Linked DNA regions of Homo sapiens. The protein of the gene in region 1 interacts with the protein of each later gene in a pairwise test. Each region holds a gene or a part of one and is shown on either strand. Other genes may lie near its edges. The genes, in order: RAP2B, PDE6D and CAMK2B.

Region 1 (7,975 bases):
TCTACAATCCATTCAAATGTACTGCAAAAAACATCACTAGGTATAACTTCAGAATTGAAAACCATCTTTCCCAAACATGTTTTTGACTTGATGTGCAATATAAACAGAGGGAAAAAAGGAAGAAAAACTTAAAAGTGCCATCCTACTTTGCCAGAAGGATGGTTACTTTCCCAGATCTAAGGCAATTTTAATAGATGGGTTCTCTTGTTCCCTACCTACAATGAGGTAAACTGTTCCATGTCAGATCAGATTCAAAATACCTGTTCATCTTCTAATCAGATGGTAATGGCCATACCCAGGGCTTCCTCGACCTTGATGGTTTTCTCCAAATTTAAAAAGTTGGGAGTAGTGTCATCCAACTTGTCACTGAGACACTTCTGTCTTTAAAATTTCACAAATAGCTCTGAAGAGTATCATGCACCTGCCCCATCCACCTCAGCCATGATACTGTATTAAATCACTGAATATGAAACACAGAAACACAAACAATAGTTTTGGGTTTGTTTCTTTAAAAATGACATTTGTATTAAAAGTCTTAAAATGAAGAGACAATGATTAAACGCATGAAATTAAAAATTACAATTAGTTAGAATTGGTACATCACAACAGTAAAATTTTGCTCTTTGCTTCTGGAGGAACACCCTACAACAGGTAATTAAAAAATTTAAAAATAATATGAAAGGGGAGCTAAATACCTGAAAATTTAAACAAAATGAAGCAAAAAAAAGGGAAACAAATTCATTGCAAGAGATGGAAATTACATTTTAAAGGCTGAAAATAATAAAGAAATTCACTAAACAACAGGCCCTATTGTCCTGGCTCCTTCAGAAAGATTACTGAAAGGAAACTGGGAAGTGGTTTGGGGAATAGCAGATTCTGGGATATGGTGGGAAGTTCACAGGTTGGCACCGGCTGGAACAGCTGAGTTTTGAAGGCACTCTGCAGACACAGGGGTGCTGGGGGCCCTGAATCACATTTACAAAGTCTTTGTACTGTATTTTTAAAAGCTAGTCATTAAAATCGGTTACTGCCAACCAAAAAACAAAAACAAAAGGCTAAACTTAAAACACACACACACCACACACATACACACACACACCATAGTACACACGAAAATGTGCAGATCTGTAACATTTTTTTCACAGCTGATAAAAAAAAAAAATACTACCATTCTCCCCCAGACTCCCCTTTGATACAGTAGGTAAACAAAATAGATTTTTTTTCCACAAATATCAGCAGACACTTTCTGGCACCCCACACTGTATTGGCATCAGTGTTAACAGTCCCAGTTCAGATGTGCAATACTTCAGATTGGATACACTGTAACAAGAATCCAACTTTGCATAGACATCCTCAGAATCGCAATCAGTCATGGGGTTGCCCTTCCAAGCTGGCAGAAAAGGAACCCGATCTTAATTTCCAGCTACTCCTGGAAAAGAAGGAAAAAAAGTTTCTTCCTCTCCTCCTGCTCCTTCATATGGTTCTCCCGGACTTCCTTCCATGTATTTAAAACTTGGAACTAGAAAAACGGCTGTTGACCAAAAAAAAAAAAAAAAAAAAAGAAAGAAAATAGAAAAAAAAAAAAAAAAACCATTTCCACCTTCTCTCCCTCCTTTTCATCCACCCTTCCCCCCCATTTTTTTTCCAGGCTGAAACTTTTGCTTGGTGGGTGTCAAGCTGCCGATACTGCGCCCTAACGGCTACTTAAACGGGGAAATATGCATCAACCAAAATCAGGGAGAAACGTACATGCTGCAAAGAGCCACATTTCCACCAGAGTATCGGATGGGCAGGACCGGACACCCCCTCGGGCACAGGGTGGAGGCAGGGGACGCCGGCCGCGGAGGCCAGCCGGGCTCCCAAGACACCCTGGCCAATGCAAAGTGGTCTCCAATCTCAAAGCAAGAAATAAATCACATTTAGAGAGTCGGATGCGTTTGGCTTTTGTGCGCAGAGCGCGGCCGGCGCGCGGTGGCCGCCTCAGAGGATCACGCAGGCCGAGCAGCAGCCCTCATCGCCGTTGGGCTGCGCCGCGTAGTTCATCTGCCGCACGATCTCGGCAAATAGCTCGTCTACCGAGGCTTTGTTTTTGGCCGACGTCTCCATGAAGGGGCAGCTCCACTCCTCAGCCAGGGCCTTGCCCTCCCCGTACGAGACCTCGCGCTCACCCTCCAGGTCCACCTTGTTGCCCACCAGGATCATGGGCACGCGCTCGTACCGCTTCACGCGGATGATCTGGTCCCGCATGGGCTTGATGTCCTGGAAGCTCTGCTGGTTGACGAGGCTGTAGACCAGGATGAAGCCCTGGCCGTTCTTGATGTACAGGTCCCGCATGGACGCGAACTGCTCGGTGCCCGCCGTATCCAGGATCTCCAGCACCGACGGCGACGAGTCCACCTCAATCTCCTTGCGGTAAAAGTCTTCGATGGTCGGGTCGTACTTCTCGATGAAGGAGCCCGTCACGAACTGCACGGTGAGCGCGGACTTGCCCACGCCGCCCGAGCCCAGCACCACCACTTTGTACTCTCTCATGGCTCCGTCAGCGCTCTCGCCGCGCCTGCCGCGGCCCCGTCGGGGCTGCGCGCCGGGGAAGGCTGGGCTTGGCGGCTGGACTTCTCTTCCCCTTCCTCAGCTACGCAGGAAAAACCCAGGAGAGAGCAACCCAGAGAACGCAGGGCGGAAACCACCGAACGGAGGCCGGGCGCCGGGCCGGCCGGCGGCGGCGGCAGCGTATCCCTGGGGTGCGGGTCCGGGCCCCGCAGCAGTCCGCGGCGGCAGCAGCAGCCCGGGCGGCGAACCGAGAGGACAATGCCCGCAGCCTGCGCGAGGCGACGGCTGGAGCTCCTAGCTGCGGCAGCCCGGGAGGGCAGGGAGGCGGTGGCGGCGGGCTGCGGAGGTGGCTGCTAATTGCGCGTCGGGCCGGGACGCGCGTGGCATGAGTCCCCGCGGAACGTGCGCCCACCGCCGCGGCCCATCGCGCTCTCTCCCACAGCCTCTACTGGGCGAGGGCTTCCTACTCGCCGCGCGCAGCCCGGCCCGCCCCTCCCCGGCGAGCATGCCCAGTGCGTTCCGGCCGCGCCTTGCCCAAGCGGCCGCTCCTGGTTTTCCGCGGGGCCGGGAGGGGGCGGGGCAGTGGGCGGGGCTCCGGATTTGAGTCCGATTTGGGGAGTGGCGCGAGTTAGGAACTGGCTGGAAGATGGGGTGTGTGTGCGTATATGGGAGCGAGGAAAGCGCTGTAGGAAGCATGCAGGCCGCTTTATTTTACAGCTGTGGGAGTGGTGGACAAGGGCGGCGGCTCTGCGAGAAGCACGTGGGCGCGGCGGGCCGCCTCAGGGATGGAGTAGGCTGTGGTCTTGCCAACTCCCGTTATCAAAGGCCCAAGGACGCCATTCACTCAGCCCCGGGCGGGCGTGGGTCTGGGGGCCGGAAACCCGAAGTCCTGTGGGTGCCGTGGAATGCACGAGCAGCCGGCGGAGCAAACCTGCCCCATAGATTTTTCTAAACCGTTCGCCACAGAAACGCTACTCTGTCTTCTCTGACCGACTCTGTGCACTGCAGCCTTGCACAAAGAAAACAGGAGGTACTCCAAGTCTGAGATACTGTTCCGACTAGGAAAGGGGTAGCTTCTGGTACCTGCAGCTCTCTCGGGGCAGGGTCCCGCGGGTCGTACCCACCTCCCCGCTCGAGTGCGGTCAAAACCCGGAGACCGGATTACATCCCAATCCAGAAGTCTCAGGGCGCCCGCAGTTAGTTCAGGGCATGCTCAGTCGCAGAGCAGGTTTTTGGGCTTGGAAGTAGGAAGCTTTTGCACCACACACCCACACTCTAGCTCAAATTACCTCTCCCAGACTCTGCACTCATTGGTCTCGGGGCGCGAGTCTGACACCCCTAAGTGTTGTTCATTGGCTGCCGCCAAGGCTTTATCAGTTTGGGGCGCTTCATTGGCTAAAAAGTAGCCTCCGCTCGCGATTGGTTATTTATAGAGATTGAGCGGAGAGGCGGAGGCACAGCTGTTCTTTCTCCGTTGCTCCCCCACCCTCTGCCTCCCACTTCCCCAACCCTGGCGTTTTGAAGTAAAAGTGAAAAAATAAGAGGCATTTAGGCTGAGAGCTCAGAACTAAATATAGTTCTTTGTTGGTGTTTTCGAGAGGGTCTGACTCCTCGGTTTCCAGTCACGACTGCCCCTTAAAGGGAGCACAAAGGGCTAATTACAGGTTTTGGTCCGCAAGAAACCGCAGAGTTGCCAAGTTTTTTTGCAGGGAGTGGGAGGGGGCGAGGAGCCGAAATGGGCCACTTGGAATTCGTTTCACCCGGAGGGGTAGGGGAGTGTCCAAGCTTGCTTCAGAGGAAGCGTCTTCGCTGGCGGGCCGGGCAATCGCTAGACTTGGCTGGGCTGGCGCTCCCGGGAGGTGCAAGGGAGATGCCCCGACTTGTTCCGACTCCCTCGCTCCTCGCTGAGGAGGGATGTCAAGACCTGTCTGCAGGCTGAGCTCGGCGGCGGCGGGTGCGGGATGGGGAGGGAGGCGGTGGAGCTGCGTCAGCGCTGGCTCCCCGTCCTGATGTCACTGCTCCCTGGTTTCACCGTCCGCATCGGAGGGTAAACCTGGGCATGGCTAACACGGTTTCAGTTCCTAGTGCCGCCGTGACTCACGCTGCGTTTGCTAGTTAACCTCCAAACCCCTGGCCAAAGCAGCTTCCGTGCACGTCTGCAGCGTGAAGTCCTTGGGCACAGAACCGGGCGGGACGTGGGCTGCCCCTGATGCCTTGGGTGGGGTGGGTGGTGCCCACACCCGCGCCTCACCCCAATTTAGTAGAGAGAGGAGACTTTCACCTTGACTGTCAGAGTGCTTGGATGTTATGAAGCTTATATAATTCTCCAGAAAAACCTCTCAGAGGCAAACTCGCCTAAGCTGGAGAGAACCCTGTCAACATCCACCCAATGTGTAATGTCCACCAAGCGTTTTACATATACTGCCACTCCTCATAATAATGATTATTTACCCATTTTAAAGATGAGGAAACTGAGGCTGTGAGATGATCAATAATTTGCCTGCGATGCCACAACTAGAAAGTGGCCAACCTAAGATTCCAACCCAGGGATTTGCCTGCAGAGCCTAGTCTCATAACCACTGGACCATACTTACCCGTCACATGAATGTTCCGGTATGTTATTCTTTCTTAGGGTGATTTTAGAGGCTGTGTGATCAGACTGGCTCTTAAACCCAAGAGGGACCTCCGCCCACAGCCACCCTCTGGCTCTCCTCTGGCAGTGCCCCTCTTCCGGTCAGGCTGATGGCCCAGCTGGAGCCTGACCCTCTTCTAGACTACATACGCTCCATGTAGTCAGAACTCTGGACTGCTCTGCCCAAATGGTGCCAAGTTCACTTTCAGGATCTGGTCGGGACTCTGAACTCACTCCTGTGTCCAAGAAATAGCTCTTCTTTGGGGTGTGGACAGTACCTGGACCTGTGGGCTAAGGTGTGCACTCCCAGGTGCTTTGGGCCCCTCGTAATGCAGGAAGAGGGATCATTCGCGATCAGCTTTATCCTCCATGACACCTTCCAGCCTGGCCCTTAGAGAAGTCCAGGAATTCATAGTTCACAACTGGCCATCCAGCTCCGTGTAGGAGGTATTTGTCAAGGTGGGAGGACAGATCATATTTTGTTTAACAGTTTGTTATCTTGATTTATGACTTAAATACTTAGGTTAATGCTATGTGGGCCTCTATTGGTACTCTTAACCACAAATATTAGGTGTGGTTCTGAGTGTGATATAGAAGCAGATGCTTTGTCCTTCTGGGCCTGAAGTCTAATCTCAAGTATTGGATATCAGTTATTATCAGAGGCCTTAGGCGAGTCACTTAAGCTCTCCTAACCTTAGTTTCCCTTTCTATAAAATGGTGATAATATAATTTGCCCTACGCACCTACCTACACAAGGAAACTTGGAGAAAATCCGGTCACCAAATCAATCATTTTACAGCAGAGAGAGCTGAGCAGAATTAGGACCCTGCTGTCTTAGCTGCCCTTACCATGTGCCAGGCTGTCCAGAGGGATAATAATTAACAGATAATAGACGGAAACATGTTTCTAAAGCTGCAGCACCCCATACGTGCATCAAATTACTGCTCAGACCCAGACAGCCTGACAGTCCCTTGAGAAATGACCATTCCTAAGACTCTAGGTAGCCATGTGGATGGGTATTACTGAACCTTTATGGCCTCCTCAGTACCAGAAAGATGCCACAATTTGAATACTTTTTATTAGGGATTCTTCAATAGCAATTTTTATTACATTCAGATGGTCTTCCACAGAAAGATTTATATTGGACCTTTGGGATTTCAAATGAAGCAATGAAAAATGTACAATTTTTTTTTTTTTTTGAGACAGTGTCTTGCTCTGTCGCCCAGGCTGGAGTGCAATGGCACGATCTCAGCTCACTGCAACCTCTGCCTCCCAGGTTCAAGTGATTCTCCAGCCTCAGCCTCCTGAGTAACTGGGATTACAGGGGCGTGCCACCACGCCTAACTAATTTTTGTATTTTTAGTAGAGACAGGGTTTCATCATGTTGGCCAGGCTGGTCTCGAACTCCTGATCTCAGGTGATCTGCCCACATCAGCCTCCCAAAGTACTGGGATTAGAGGCATGAGCCACTGTGCCCGGCCCAGTGTACAAATTTTTAGGGTTGATCATTTCTTCATGTAAAATTTGTTAGGAATATTTTTACCCCCACTCACAGCGTGAAACATTATCTATCCTGTACTATAATTATTACATTTCCATAACTAAGTCTGGTCACCTTAAGCACCATGTGAAATACTCAAGGGCAAGGTCCATGTCTAGTTTATCTTTAGAGCCACCTTTGTCCTTCACAGCACTTAGTACCGTAGAAAGCCCTCAAATATTTATTAATGAATGTGTGAATGGTATTTTATCCTTTTCCAAACTCTATTTGTGTTAGAAGATCATATCAATCCTTGATAAGACATAACATGTTTTCGATCCACAGAAAAATGTATACTAATGTGTCAGTCTGTCTCCCTGAGTCACAAAGATGCTGGAGTGATCAAAGTCTTCATTTATTGGGGTGAAAACACTAAATCAGTGCTATCTTGAGGAAAGATACCAAAGCATCCAATGGATAAAGCTTTTGTCTGAAGAAGACATTTTCAGATTATGTGGAAAGGCATTTTTGAAAAACAATCTAACATAAAAGCTATCAGGAAGAGACAGCTTAACTTTGATACTTTGCATAAACAGGGGTCCCATTCCTAACCTTTGCTCACAGAGTGACCTCCTTCCAAGATACACAGGTTGGGTCTTGAAAGAATTAGATTTCTTAGAATGTGACTGTTTTACGTCCTCAAGAAAATAACTACCCGCTTGTTCTTTTCATTTGTACTAGGTAAGTGGAGGTTTGTTTCATAATGTTCATAGTTTTAGTTAGTGTCACCTATAGGTAAACAAAAAATTCTGAACAAATTCTAATTTTGAAAGCATCAAAGGTAAGTTGATAGTGACCATATATCATTATTTGAAAGCTGAAGTAGGCCAGGCGCAATGGCTCACACCTGTAATCCCAGCACTTTGGGAGGCCGAGGCGGGCAGATCACGAGGTCAGGAGTTTGAGTCCAGCCTGGCCAAAACGGCAAAACCCCATCTCTACTAAAAATACAAAAATTGGCTGGGTGTGGTGGCACATGCTTGTGGTCCCAGCTACTTGGGGGGGCTGAGGCAGGAGAATCACTCGAACCTGGGAGGCAGAGGTTGCAGTGAGCAGAGATTGTGCCACTGCACTCCAGCCTGGGTGACAGAGTGAGACTCCATCTCAAAAAAATAAATAAAGTGGAGGTATAAGTGTGAGAATAACTGTGCCTTACTGTGTTCTCAATATGTGTTAAGTAACTGAATATATTATAACATGACCACATATCCACTAGTAGGCTTAGGATATTTTACTTTATCAATGGTCCTTTT
Region 2 (4,518 bases), on another chromosome or scaffold:
GTGTAATATTGGATCATCTCTTTCAACAGTTCCTTTATGAAAGCCATATTGAATTTGTTAAAAATTGAGGTTATTGACTTTAAGGTTTTTTGTTTTTGTTTTGGGTTTTGTTTATTTTATTTTTTTAAAAAACAGGGTCTTGCCATGTTGCCCAGGCTGGACTCCAACTCCTGGGCTCAAGTGATCTTCCTAGCTCAGCCTCCTAAGTAGGTGAGACTACAGGCATGTGCCACCATGCCTGTCTCTACTTTTTAAGTTTTTTTTTTTTTTTTTGAGACAGAGTCTCGCCCTGTCACCCAGGCTGGAGTGCAGTGGCGTGATCTCAGCTCACTGCCAGCTCCGCCTCCCAGGTTCAAGCAACTCTCCTGTCTCAGCCTCCCAAGTAGCTGGGATTACAGGCATACACCACCACACCGGTTAATTTTTTTTTTGTATTTTTAGTAGAGACAGGGTTTCACCATATTGGTCAAGCTGGTCTCGAACTCCTAACCTCGGGTGATCCACCCGCCTCAACCTCCCAAAGTGCTGGGATTACAGGCATGAGCCACCGTGCCCAGCCCCTTTTTAAAGTTTTTAATAGTTTTTTTAACAGCCAGGTGTGGTGACACTTTCCTATAATCCTAGCTACTTGGGAAGCTGAGGCGGGAGGATTGCTTGAGTCCAAGAGTTTGAGACTAGCTTGGGCAACATAGATTTTGTAAGAGGCTGGGCGCAGTGGCTCACACCTGTAATCCCAGCACTTTGGGAAGCCAAGTCGGGTGGATCACGAGGTCAGGAAATCGAGACCATCTTGGCTAACACAGTGAAACCCCATCTCTACTAAAAATACAAAAAATCAGCTGGGCATGGCGGCACACGCTTGTAGTCCCAGCTACTCGGGAGGCTGAGGCAGGAGATCACTTGAATCTGGGTGCCGGAGGTTGCAGTGAGCCGAGATCACGCCTCTGCACTCCACCCTGGGTGACAGGGCGAGACTCCACCTCAAAAAAAAAAAAAAATTGTAATAGAATTTTTTAAAGTTTTAATAGTTTTAAAAGTAGATTTTTTTTTTTTTTTTTTGATATGGAGTCTCGCTCTGTTGCCCAGGCTGGAGTGCAGTGGCAAGATCTCGGCTCACTGCAAGCTCCACCTCCCAGGTTCCCATCTTTCTCCTGCCTCAGCCTTCCGAGTAGCTGGGACTACAGGCACCCGCCACCACGCCCAGCTAATTTTTCGTATTTTTAGTAGAGACGGGGTTTCACCATGTTAGCCAGGATGGTCTCGATCTCCTGACCTCGTGATCCGCCCGCCTCGGCCTCCCAAAGTGCTGGGATTACAGACGTGAGCCACCGTGCCTGGCCTAAAAGTAGATTTTTTAATTACAGTAGTAGCTATTTTTATATCTTATCAGCCAGTCAGATTCTGAGTACCTTATTTACCTGTTTTTTGGGGTTTTTTTTTTTGTTTTTTTTTTTGAGACGGAGTCTCGCTCTGTCGCCCAGGCTGGAGTGCAGTAGCATGATCCCAGCTCACTGCAACCTCCGCCTCCCAGGTTCACGCCATTCTCCTGCCTCAGCCTCCTGAGTAGCTGAGACTACAGGCACCCGCCACCACGCCCGGCTATTTTTTTTTTTTTATATTTTTAGTACAGACGGGGTTTCACCATGTTAGCCAGGATGGTCTCGATCTCCTGACCTCATGATCTGCCCGCCTCAGCCTCCCAAAGTGCTGGGATTACAGGCATGAGCCACCATGCCCGGCCTATTTACCTGTTTTATAATTAATTACCAGCAGAAATGTATCTGCTGGTTATTAATTACCCTGGGAAAGTACAGAGTAGTTTAGGAAAGCAGGGGTTTTTTTTTTTTAGATTTTATTAAACTTCATTTGACTTCTTCTTCACGAGGCGTGATTTTTTGTTGCTGTTTTTTTTTGAGACGGTCTCGCTCTGTCTCAAACCTATCATAAGATGAAAATATCATAAGTCAAAAATGCATTTAATATCCCCATAAATCCACTATAAAGTTGAAAGATCATAAGTTGATTCATTATAAGTAGGGAACCAACTATACTTAACTTTTTATTTTTTATTTTTTTTTATTTTTTTTGAGACAGAGTCTCGCTCTGTCGCGGAGGCTGGAGTGCAGTGGCGTGATCTCGGCTCACTGCAAGCTCCGCCTCCCGGGTTCCCACCATTCTCCTGCCTCAGCCTCCCGAGTAGCTGGGACTATAGGCGCCCGCCACCACGCCTGGCTAATTTTTTTGTATTTTTAGTAGAGACAGGGTTTCACCCTGTTTAGCCAGGATGGTCTCAATCTCCTGACCTTGTGATCCGCCCACCTCGGACTCCCAAAGTGCTGGGATTACAGGCATGAGCCACCGTGCCCGGCTACTTAACTTTTTAGAACCCCCAAAAACAGTTGCCCTAAACTCAGCTCAAGTGTGATTTGGTAAGGCCATGGTCTCTCCCATTTTACAAATGGGAGCACCGAGATACCCACCAAGAAAAATGAAATTCTTCCCTCACACCTCACAATACAGGTGCATCATTTAGTGTTCTGTAGTTGTAAGTCATAGAAACAGGCTCTGGCTAATACAAGAGCTGAAAGACTAAGGGGGAGAGCTGGGCGGCTTGGAAGATGCAGATGGGCAGGAATCCCTGGATGGCTTCCTCAAGGAGAAGCTACAGGAAGGATCTTGCTCAAGAGAAAGAGTCTGATTGGCCTAAGTTACATCCTCTGTTCACCCTTTTGCCAGGTGAGTGAGGGGCCACTCACTTGGCACATGGACTGGAGGAAGGGTGGTTCCCAAATGAAGAGCAAGGTGCTGTTACCCAAAGGCAGGAAAATAGATGTGGGCCAGGCCAAAGCCCACCTTTCGACTATTGTGAGTACTGTAGGGAAGGATACTGCCCCTGAGGTCTGCAGGCTTCTATATGTAAGCCAGCCAGAGGTGTCCATGAATGCAGTATCAGAAAGTCAGTCGGATCTATAAGCACCCTGTGTGCAGAGCACTCTACTAAGGGCTTTAGAGTGTACCAAGGAGTGGAGACATGCTCTCACTTCTGATTTGTGAGCTTGACAGGGATGAATGTAACCACATAAGTTAAATGTCATGTTAGACTTGTAGCCCCATATAGACAAGGATTTTAATGTCCCCAAGCTAAGACTCTGGGTGGGTGCATGTCCATTGGCCCAGGAATCCAGATGGAAACCACTTTGTGGAAATGAAATCTTGTGCCTAACATGCTCACTCTCTTTTGCCCTCTGTTTCTCTTCTTACTTACAGTGGGAACGTTATCATAGAAACAAAGTTTTTTGACGACGATCTTCTTGTAAGCACATCCAGAGTGAGACTTTTCTATGTTTGAAAGAAGAATGTGTGTACATTTCAAGAATTTGGGTTTTTTGGAGGGAGGAGGAAACTGTTTACTTTTTTCCTCCACACGTTTGATTTTTGACACATACACCCCTAATTCCCTCAACAGCAGAACCTACCTGCAGCCACCAGGGGACCAGCTCTGTGTAGGTAACCAGATGGCTCTTTTTCCCAAGCCACCATCTTCCAGCTGACCAGACTAAACTCCCAACCCCAGACCAGGGCAGGGGACAGGTCTCAAGTCCTTCCCAGCATACACACAGGGAACAAACACATACCACAAACCGGTAACTGTACCTGTCACCCTCCTTGTCTCCTCCTTGGGCCCTACAGGCTACACATCTACCTTTGGCCCCTGGTTTTGGAAAAATTCCGTGTTCCTGACCCATGTTTAGTTTTTTCCTACCATTTCTATTTCATACATTCTCATACATTTAACTTGTAAAATAGACTGTGATATTATTACATAATGTAATTAAAAATATGAATTAAAATATTCCTACAGTCTTTAGCATGGCACTGCTTTTATCTCTCCTTTTTCTGGAAAGTGAACCTGGCTGCATAATGGAAAGAAACCAAATATAAGATCACAACTGTATTTCACTCCAGGAATGGAACTGATAGATCTTGTTCCCTAGTGCCACAGTTACTGCTTTCCAAAATTGTGCAACATACTTGAACCAAACCCATGACCTTAACATTTGTCTTTTAGACACAATCTTTAATGGTTCTTTTCCACAACATACATGCACCCTTTGTTTGTTTATTATTGTTAATTTTTTCTATTTGTTTACAGTATTCATTTGTTCAAGAAGTTTCAAGAAAGGGCAATTCTAAGTTAGTAGAGTAGGGACTCTCATATTCCTAAATGAGACTAGAAGCTACAAAATGAAAAGATCTGCATGAACCTAACTGGAGAATGATGGGAAGGCGTCTGGGCTGGGAGGAGGCTGGGAGGCCTTTAAGACTGTCGTCATTGGAAGCCAGCGTGGGAGAGAAGGGATTACAACTGGCAGTGCTTTCAGGTCCGACATAAGAGAGAACACCAAAAAGTGTTCTTACCTCTGAGCTACTAGTAGCCTTCAGTGTCTTTTTTTGTTGTTTTGTTTTGAGACAGAGTCTCACTCTTGTTGCCCAGGTTGGAGTCCAATGGCGGGATCT
Region 3 (7,168 bases), on another chromosome or scaffold:
GCCACCTGAGAGGTGAGGCCGGGGCCTGACTGGACGTCCAGTCCCAGAGGGGCAGGTGCCCTGAGGGAATGTGGGCGACAGGAATGCTCTGCCTGGGGCCAGGCCAAGGTTCCTGGAGCCCTGTGCGGATCTGCAGAGCTCCTGGGAACGCCTCACCCTGTATTTTGGATGACACCGGCTGCTGCTTCATTGGAACCAGCCAGTCCCATTGTGTTTTACGTCTTGGAATTTCAAAAAGCCCATTTTCCTCTCTTGTTAAAGAGTCAGCTGAGCATACCAGTCTCTCTGCCAGGCTCATCTTGCTGGGAGAAGTGGAGCCCTCATGTGTTGGGGATGCAGGGTGGCCACAGCACTAGGGTGGCAGGGCCGGCCTCGGACTCCGTGCCAGCCTGTGCTGGCTGCCGTGAGAATGCACCCTGGTGAGGGGCGCCCTCCCAGGGACCAGCACAGAACTGGGTGTCTTCTCCGGTCACTGCCGCATGAGGTCCACAGAGCTGGGGCCCTGCAGCCGCCAGAGGGCATGTCCCCTGAGCCCCTGGCCTTTAAGCCCCGTGGAAGCAGCCGAGGCAGAGATCAGCTTCAGAGCCTGGGCTGGTCCTGACACAGGCCCAGCCCTGTCCACCTGCCCTCAGCCACGTCCCACCTATCCTTGGCCGCATCCTGACCCGCTGCCTCCCGTGTTTCCTCAGGAGTCTTCTGACAGTGCCAATACCACCATAGAGGATGAAGACGCTAAAGGTACCTGCACTTGAGTCCTTGCCCCCCCAGCGGCCTTGGCATTGCTGGGTTGCTCTTTGAGGTGGGTGGGACTTGGGCAGGGTCAACTCTCCTGCGACGCCTAGTTTATGCATGTGTTGAGGGGCTCAGGGACCCTGTAGCTGTAATCCTGCTCCAAGCCTGGGTGTCAGGCCTGCCCAGAGCGGAGAAGCATGGCAGAGATGACCGACAGCTGGGCAGTCTCGGTCACCGCATCCAAGTGAGGAAGCCACGGCTTTGCATGGAGGCAGGTTCTCCACACCAGGACCCTCACGGGGAAACAGGCCCATGGGTAGAATTTGTTCCAAGATGCTGTCCTTGTCTTAAAGCTCCTTAAGCTTGCGTTTCTGTCCAGCATGCACTTGCCAAGTGGCCGGGCAGCTGGGTGAGTGTTTCCGTGTTTGCCTTTGCTTAGCCAGGAGTGTCCTGCTGCGGTGGGTTTCTGCACCACAGATTCCAGGGCCCCCTCCCTTGCTCACCCAGGCCAATGTCTTGTGTGTTCCCCAAGAGGCCCCCAGGGCACCAGGCACTGGGGCATGCTCCATGGATTCTGCCGCCTCCAGACCACCCACATGGGGCCTCCTGACCCTCATCGCTCACACGGTCACCTAATAAGCCTTATGCTGTTCTCAGGGCTACCCTGGTGCCCAAAAAGGGTCAGCCACTCTGCCAGTTTAGGGGAGAAAACTTCTCACCTGTCCAAAGCATAGCCTTGCTCCTGCCCGGCCTACCCAGCTATGACACTGTCCCTGAGCAGAGATGAGCACAGGACTTTGGGCCCTGGATGCCGGAGAGTGGGTGTTTGTGTGATTCCCCTGCAGTCTGGAACAGGCCCCAAAGGCAACAGCATGAAGGCTGTCCAGAGGTTCTCCATCACCCTCAGCCGAGTGGGGTGCTGAGCAGTGAGGGAGGGGACCTGGGAGGGGGGCCCAGCCTGGATCCTGCAGGGGAGAAGAGAAGACAGCCAGAAGCCAGCAGCTGTGGCTCAGATCTGAGCCCGAGCAGCCTCTCGAGGTGGAGGCAGACACCCCCCACCCCACCCCGTGCAGAAAGAAGCCTTGCCAGCCTGCCCTGAGGCTGGTACAGAGTCCAGGCAGGCTCAGTGGCCATCATGCCCCTACGATGACTGTCACTCCCTCTCCGTGCGCCTGGCCTCTGCTGGCTCTGGCCAGGGGTGGTCACAGCACTAGGGTGGCAGGGTGGCCTCTGACTCTGCGCCAGCCTGCACTGGCCTGTGCTGCCCTGGCCTCTGCTGGCTCTGGCTCTGGCACCGGTCCCGTGTTGGCTCCTTCAGCCTTCACATACCTGCTGCGGCCACCACAGGCCCAGGACCCCCACAGGTGGCCACCCCACCTCCACCCCAGGAGCCCCAGGTATCCAGCTGTCACCCCCTCCCTCCCTCCTGGCCTCCCCCTGTCCTTCTCCAGTTGCCTTCTTTTCCTGCGGGCGCACCACCCACCTGCCTGCCTCACCTGTTCCGCCTCAGCCCCCAGGGTCCCCGACATCCTGAGCTCAGTGAGGAGGGGCTCGGGAGCCCCAGAAGCCGAGGGGCCCCTGCCCTGCCCATCTCCGGCTCCCTTTAGCCCCCTGCCAGCCCCATGTAAGTAGCCTGGGTCCTGCTGCTGTGGGGGTCATGTTGGAGGGCTGGCAACCCCCTAGAGGGGCCACTCCAGAGCCGAGGGCAGGCTGAGCGTGGACCCTGGCTCCAGCCTCATCACCCCACAATCCCTCACTGGGGCTTTCCAGGGTGGCCCCAGCCCATCGAGCCCCACCTCTTTGTGAGGAGGGCCCTGGACCACTTTCCTGCTCAAGGCCACTGGGCAGGATGGGAGGCCCTGGAGGCTCGGGCCTCAATTCCAGTCTTCAGGGTCGGTGCAGGCCTCACTCCACCTCAGCTTGCGGGCGGGGGGGCTCCCTGCTATTGAGGCAGGCTCTGATTCAGGGCCTGATCCCAGGGCCCAAGGGGTCTAGAACACGGGACCCCTCCCACTGGCCTCCTCCGCCTTGCCGCCGCCTCGTGTGTCTGTCTGCCTCATGTTCACGTCTCATCTGTTCCACCCCAGCCCCCAGGATCTCTGACATCCTGAACTCTGTGAGAAGGGGTTCAGGAACCCCAGAAGCCGAGGGCCCCCTCTCAGCGGGGCCCCCGCCCTGCCTGTCTCCGGCTCTCCTAGGCCCCCTGTCCTCCCCGTGTAAGTAGTGGCCCCCAGGCCTGCCGCCTCTGCTGCCGGACAGCTCCCTGCGAATGGCCGGCGCTCAGCAGCTTCCCACCTGCATGCACGGCCCAGCTACCCTGCCCCGGCGCCGCAGCCTGGAGTCCTGCCCTGGCGGGGCTTCCTGTGGGCTCCCATGCTAACCAGCAGGGCAGCTCCTGGCTTCTCCCTAAGGGGCCCAGACCCCTCCACGGCTCCTGCTCCCACTGCCACTCCCCGCTCGCTGTCCAGCCCCAGGCCCCTCTCCAAAATGTCTGTCCCAGCCCTGGGCAGCCCTGGCCCCTCCGAGGCCCCCCATGCCCCTAGGCCCTCTCTGCTGATCACTGTCCCAGCCCCACAGACTTCACACCCACCCAGGGGCCCTGCCCATGGTGCCCAGGAGCTGCACTCAGGGCCACCCTGGTTCCTGATGTGGCCCCAACCCCTGAGCACCCTCCCTCAGTCTAGGAGGCTGAGGAAGGTGCCAAAACTGGAACCCCGACCAGGGTCTCTGGAGCTCACCAACAAGGGGATAGTACGGAGAATCATAAGCCTGGCCTCTGCTGACCTGGGCTGTCCTCATGGGGCCAGGCCAGGCCTCCTCTGTAACGCCCGTGACTCCCTCCTCTCCCTGTAACCCCGTCCAGCGTTCCTCAAGGGCCACTTACCTGACAGCTTCTTGCTGGCCAGCAGCCTCTCCCTGGAGGGTGCCCTCTGCCCCCAGCAGCTTCAGCCCACGCCACCCGACAGCCAGAGCATCTGCCCTTCACTCCTGCAGCCTCCTCTCCACGCACCACGCTGTCCGCAGCAGCACCCTCTGTCCCCCTGTCTCCCTCCGTCCCCCCATATCCCCCTCGGTCAGCCTACAACCTCTCCACGTCCCCCTAAGTCCACGCTCTATCCCTACATCCCCCTCTGTCCCCCAAATTCCCCTCTTTCCCTCATTTCCATTTTCCTCCCCAAACTCTGCTCTGCCCCTCACATTCTCCCTCTGTCCCCCACACCCTCCTCTGTCCCCCAGACTCTCCCTCTGTCCCCCACACCCTCCTCTGTCCCCCATATACCCCTCTGTCCCCCACACCCACCTTGGTCCCTTCACGCCCTTTTCTGTCCCCCACACCCCCTCTGTTCCCTACACTCTCCCTCTGTCCTCCAGACCCTCCTCTGTCCCCCACACTCCCTCTGTCCCCCACACCCCCTGTCCCCCACACTCTCCCTCTGCCCCCCAGACCCTCCTCTGTCCCCTACACTCCCTCTGTCCCCCATATCCCCCTCTGTCCCCCACACCCTCCTCTGTCCTCCACCCCCTGCCCCCCATACCCCCTTCTGTCCCCCACACTTCCTCTGTCTTCCACACCCCCTCCTGTCCCCCACACCCCCTCTGTCCCCCAGACTCTCCCTCTGTCCCCCACACTCCGTCTGTCCCCCACACCTCCTGTCTTCCACACCCCCTTCTGTCCCCCACACCCCCTCTGTCCCCCATACTCTCCTCTGTCCCCCACCTCCCCCTCTGTTCCCCACACCGCCTTCTGTCCCCCACACCCCCTCTGTCTTCCACTTCCCCTCTGTCCCCCACATCCCCCTCTGTCCCCTGCACCCTCCTCTGTCCCCTGCACCCTCCTCTGTCCCCTGCACCTCTCTCTGTCCCCCACATCCCCCTCTGTCCTCCACACTCCCTCTGTCCCCCACATCCACCTTGGTCCCCTCACGCACCCCCATCCCCCATGACCCCTTCTGTCCCCCACACCCCCTCTGTCTTCCACACCCCCCTCTGTCCCCCACACCCACCTTGGTCCCCTCATGCCCCCCATCCCCTACACCCCCACTTTGTCCCCCCACATGCCCCTCTGTCCCCCACGTTCCCTTCTGTCTCCCACGTCTCCTCCATTTCCCGTTTCCCTCTCTGTCCCCCAAGCTCCCCTCCATCCCCCACATCCCCTTCTTTCCCCTATATCCCCTCTGTCGGCCCAGGTCCACCATCTTCCCCCCACACCCCCCCATTCTCCCTTCCTCCCCTCTGTCCCCTTGTGCCCCATCCCCCACATCTGCCTCTGTGCCCCTCAATCTCTGGCTTGGCTGTCTGCCCATGGTTTCTCTCCTGCGTGCCCCCCGTGCCTGCCTTGTGTTCACGTCTCGTCTGTTCCGCCCCAGCCCCCAGGATCTCTGACATCCTGAACTCTGTGAGGAGGGGCTCAGGGACCCCAGAAGCCGAGGGCCCCTCGCCAGTGGGGCCCCCGCCCTGCCCATCTCCGACTATCCCTGGCCCCCTGCCCACCCCATGTAAGTAGCACCTTGAGTGGCCGTGGCAGCGGCTGCCCGGAGGGGCTCGGGGCGTGCGAGCCTGGCAGTGGTGCTCTGGGAAGGGCCATTCTTGCGGAGGAGGGCGGGGCACAGGATCCCTCTGCTGGGTCCCAGGGAATTGCTTTGAAGCACATGAAGGTGCCACTGGGTCTCAGAAAATGGAGGTTATGGTTATGAAGTGTGTATGACATATGTGTATAGGAAGAGCGTCCGAAAGAGCAGGTTTGTTGCCGACCCCAGCATTCGCAACCCTGAGGTCCACAGCTTTCTCCTGATGGGAGGGGAATGGGTGGCAAAGGGTCTGCGCGTGTGGCAAGGGCTAGCACGCCAGGAGCTGCTGGCTTGGGTCAAGGTGGACCTGCTGGGCCGGGACAGAAAAGTGTCAGTCCCGGCCTGAGACGCTCTAGCATTAGAGCTGTCCAAGTCCAGACAGCAGGGAGCAGGTGGGGATCGGGAGGCGCGGATCTGGGGGGCAGCTGGGGCCAGGCTGAAACAGAGCGGGCGGGACAGGAAGCACAGGCTGGGCAGCCTCCCCGGCCAGGGAGGAGCCAGGCTGGGCCACCTCCCGGTCTGTCTGCCGACTACCCGCAGTATCACTTACAGGGATGGATGACATCCCAGGGCTGCTGCCACCCCCACCTGTGGGGAGACACCAGACTGGGGGTGGTGTGGAGATACTCTTAGAGAAGAGGCTGCTGGGCCACGGGCTCGGCATGGCAGGGCAGTGGCTAGGTAAGTACTTGAGGGACAGGTGGGGTCTGCTTGCCACCGTCCCCTCTGCAGGCTGGGCCTGGGGGCTGCTGCAGGCGGCCAGGGCAGAAGGGTGTGGGGAGAGTGAACCCACAGGAGCAGCGGCTCGAGGAGGGGGATGCAGGCTGCAGGCTCAAAGGGGCACTGGATCCACCCTGGGTGCCCGAGAGAGCAGGGGGCAGCCCCTGGAGGGGTACTCACCCCCAGAGCTTCTGTGGTCGGCTGAGGACCCCCAGCAGGGGTTGACTGAGGGGATCAGAGGCAAGCAGCTGAGGGGAGAGGCCAGGTTCTTGATGCTGATAGGGTCGGGGTGCCTGGGCGACCAGAACTCAAGGAGGGAGGCATGGGGAGGGGCCGCCGTGCAGCTGGGGTGGGTGCACCGCAGAGCCTCTGGGAGTGGTCAGAACCCCCGACACCTGCCACTTCTACAGCAGCTCATCTGATTTTAAGGGGCTTGCTGCCCTTGCAGAAGTGGAGGGGTGTGCCCAAAGGAGCCTGCCTGGAAGGTCACCCCATCAGGTTGGCATGACCCCAGCCCAGGACTGCAGCCTGCCCTCAAGGTCTGTGCAGTATCTGGGGTGAGTCCTCTGAGGACAGGGCCCAGGGTGGGTGTGGAGTGGCCAGCTCGGGGCTCGGTGTCCAGGCTCACCTTCAGGGGCCACAGCACAGACCTGCCCTTCCAGAGTCTTCCCTGAGCTTGGCTGGGGAGGAGGGGGCTGCAGGAAGGAGCTGTGAGCAGGGCAGGATGGAGATTCGTGTGGCCCTCCTGGGAGGGGCTGGGCAGGGCTGGGAAAGGGGTGGGTGAGATGTTCCGGAACTCAGGGAAAGGAAGAGTCTGGGTACTGCCCTGGGGGCACCTGGGCCCAGGTGGCAGGTGGCCAGCTTTCTGCCTCCTTTCCACCTCCTTTCTCCAGAAGGCACCCACCAGCTGTGTAAATAGGGCAGGTGCCCACGGCCCGCCTCAGGCCCCGTCTCCTCCCCACCCACGCTCTCTAATCGCGGATTATACACAATCCAGCCTGATCCCTGGGCAGCTGCCCTCCCTCCCGCAGCCACCTCTGGCTCTGAGAGATGGGCTTGGGGCCAGCCTGGGGTCCCAGGAGTCCAGGCCAGGATGAGAACCTGCTCTGACCCCACCTGGACGCATTAGGCCTGCCTGGACCTGTTGC

The links.
Region 2: the proteins of RAP2B (region 1) and PDE6D interact in a two-hybrid assay, tested with the Homo sapiens proteins (one study listed by BioGRID).
Region 3: the proteins of RAP2B (region 1) and CAMK2B interact in binary tests that used the Homo sapiens proteins (3 or more experiments, as listed by UniProt).

What each region holds. Positions count from the first base shown.
Region 1 is NC_000003.12:153,157,251-153,165,225, reverse strand, and holds the start of RAP2B (ras-related protein Rap-2b), read right to left. Parts: upstream 3,001-7,975; 5' UTR 2,533-3,000; coding exon 1,981-2,532; 3' UTR 1-1,980. UniProt on the Homo sapiens protein: Small GTP-binding protein which cycles between a GDP-bound inactive and a GTP-bound active form. Involved in EGFR and CHRM3 signaling pathways through stimulation of PLCE1.
Region 2 is NC_000002.12:231,731,783-231,736,300, reverse strand, and holds the end of PDE6D (retinal rod rhodopsin-sensitive cGMP 3',5'-cyclic phosphodiesterase subunit delta), read left to right. Parts: intron 1-3,267; coding exon 3,268-3,349; 3' UTR 3,350-3,868; downstream 3,869-4,518. UniProt on the Homo sapiens protein: Promotes the release of prenylated target proteins from cellular membranes. Modulates the activity of prenylated or palmitoylated Ras family members by regulating their subcellular location.
Region 3 is NC_000007.14:44,224,576-44,231,743, reverse strand, and holds part of CAMK2B (calcium/calmodulin-dependent protein kinase type II subunit beta), read left to right. Parts: intron 1-689; coding exon 690-738; intron 739-2,242; coding exon 2,243-2,356; intron 2,357-2,819; coding exon 2,820-2,948; intron 2,949-5,099; coding exon 5,100-5,228; intron 5,229-5,852; coding exon of another isoform or gene 5,853-5,981; intron 5,982-6,430; coding exon of another isoform or gene 6,431-6,528; exon of another isoform or gene 6,529-6,559; intron 6,560-7,168. UniProt on the Homo sapiens protein: Calcium/calmodulin-dependent protein kinase that functions autonomously after Ca(2+)/calmodulin-binding and autophosphorylation, and is involved in dendritic spine and synapse formation, neuronal plasticity and regulation of sarcoplasmic reticulum Ca(2+) transport in skeletal muscle.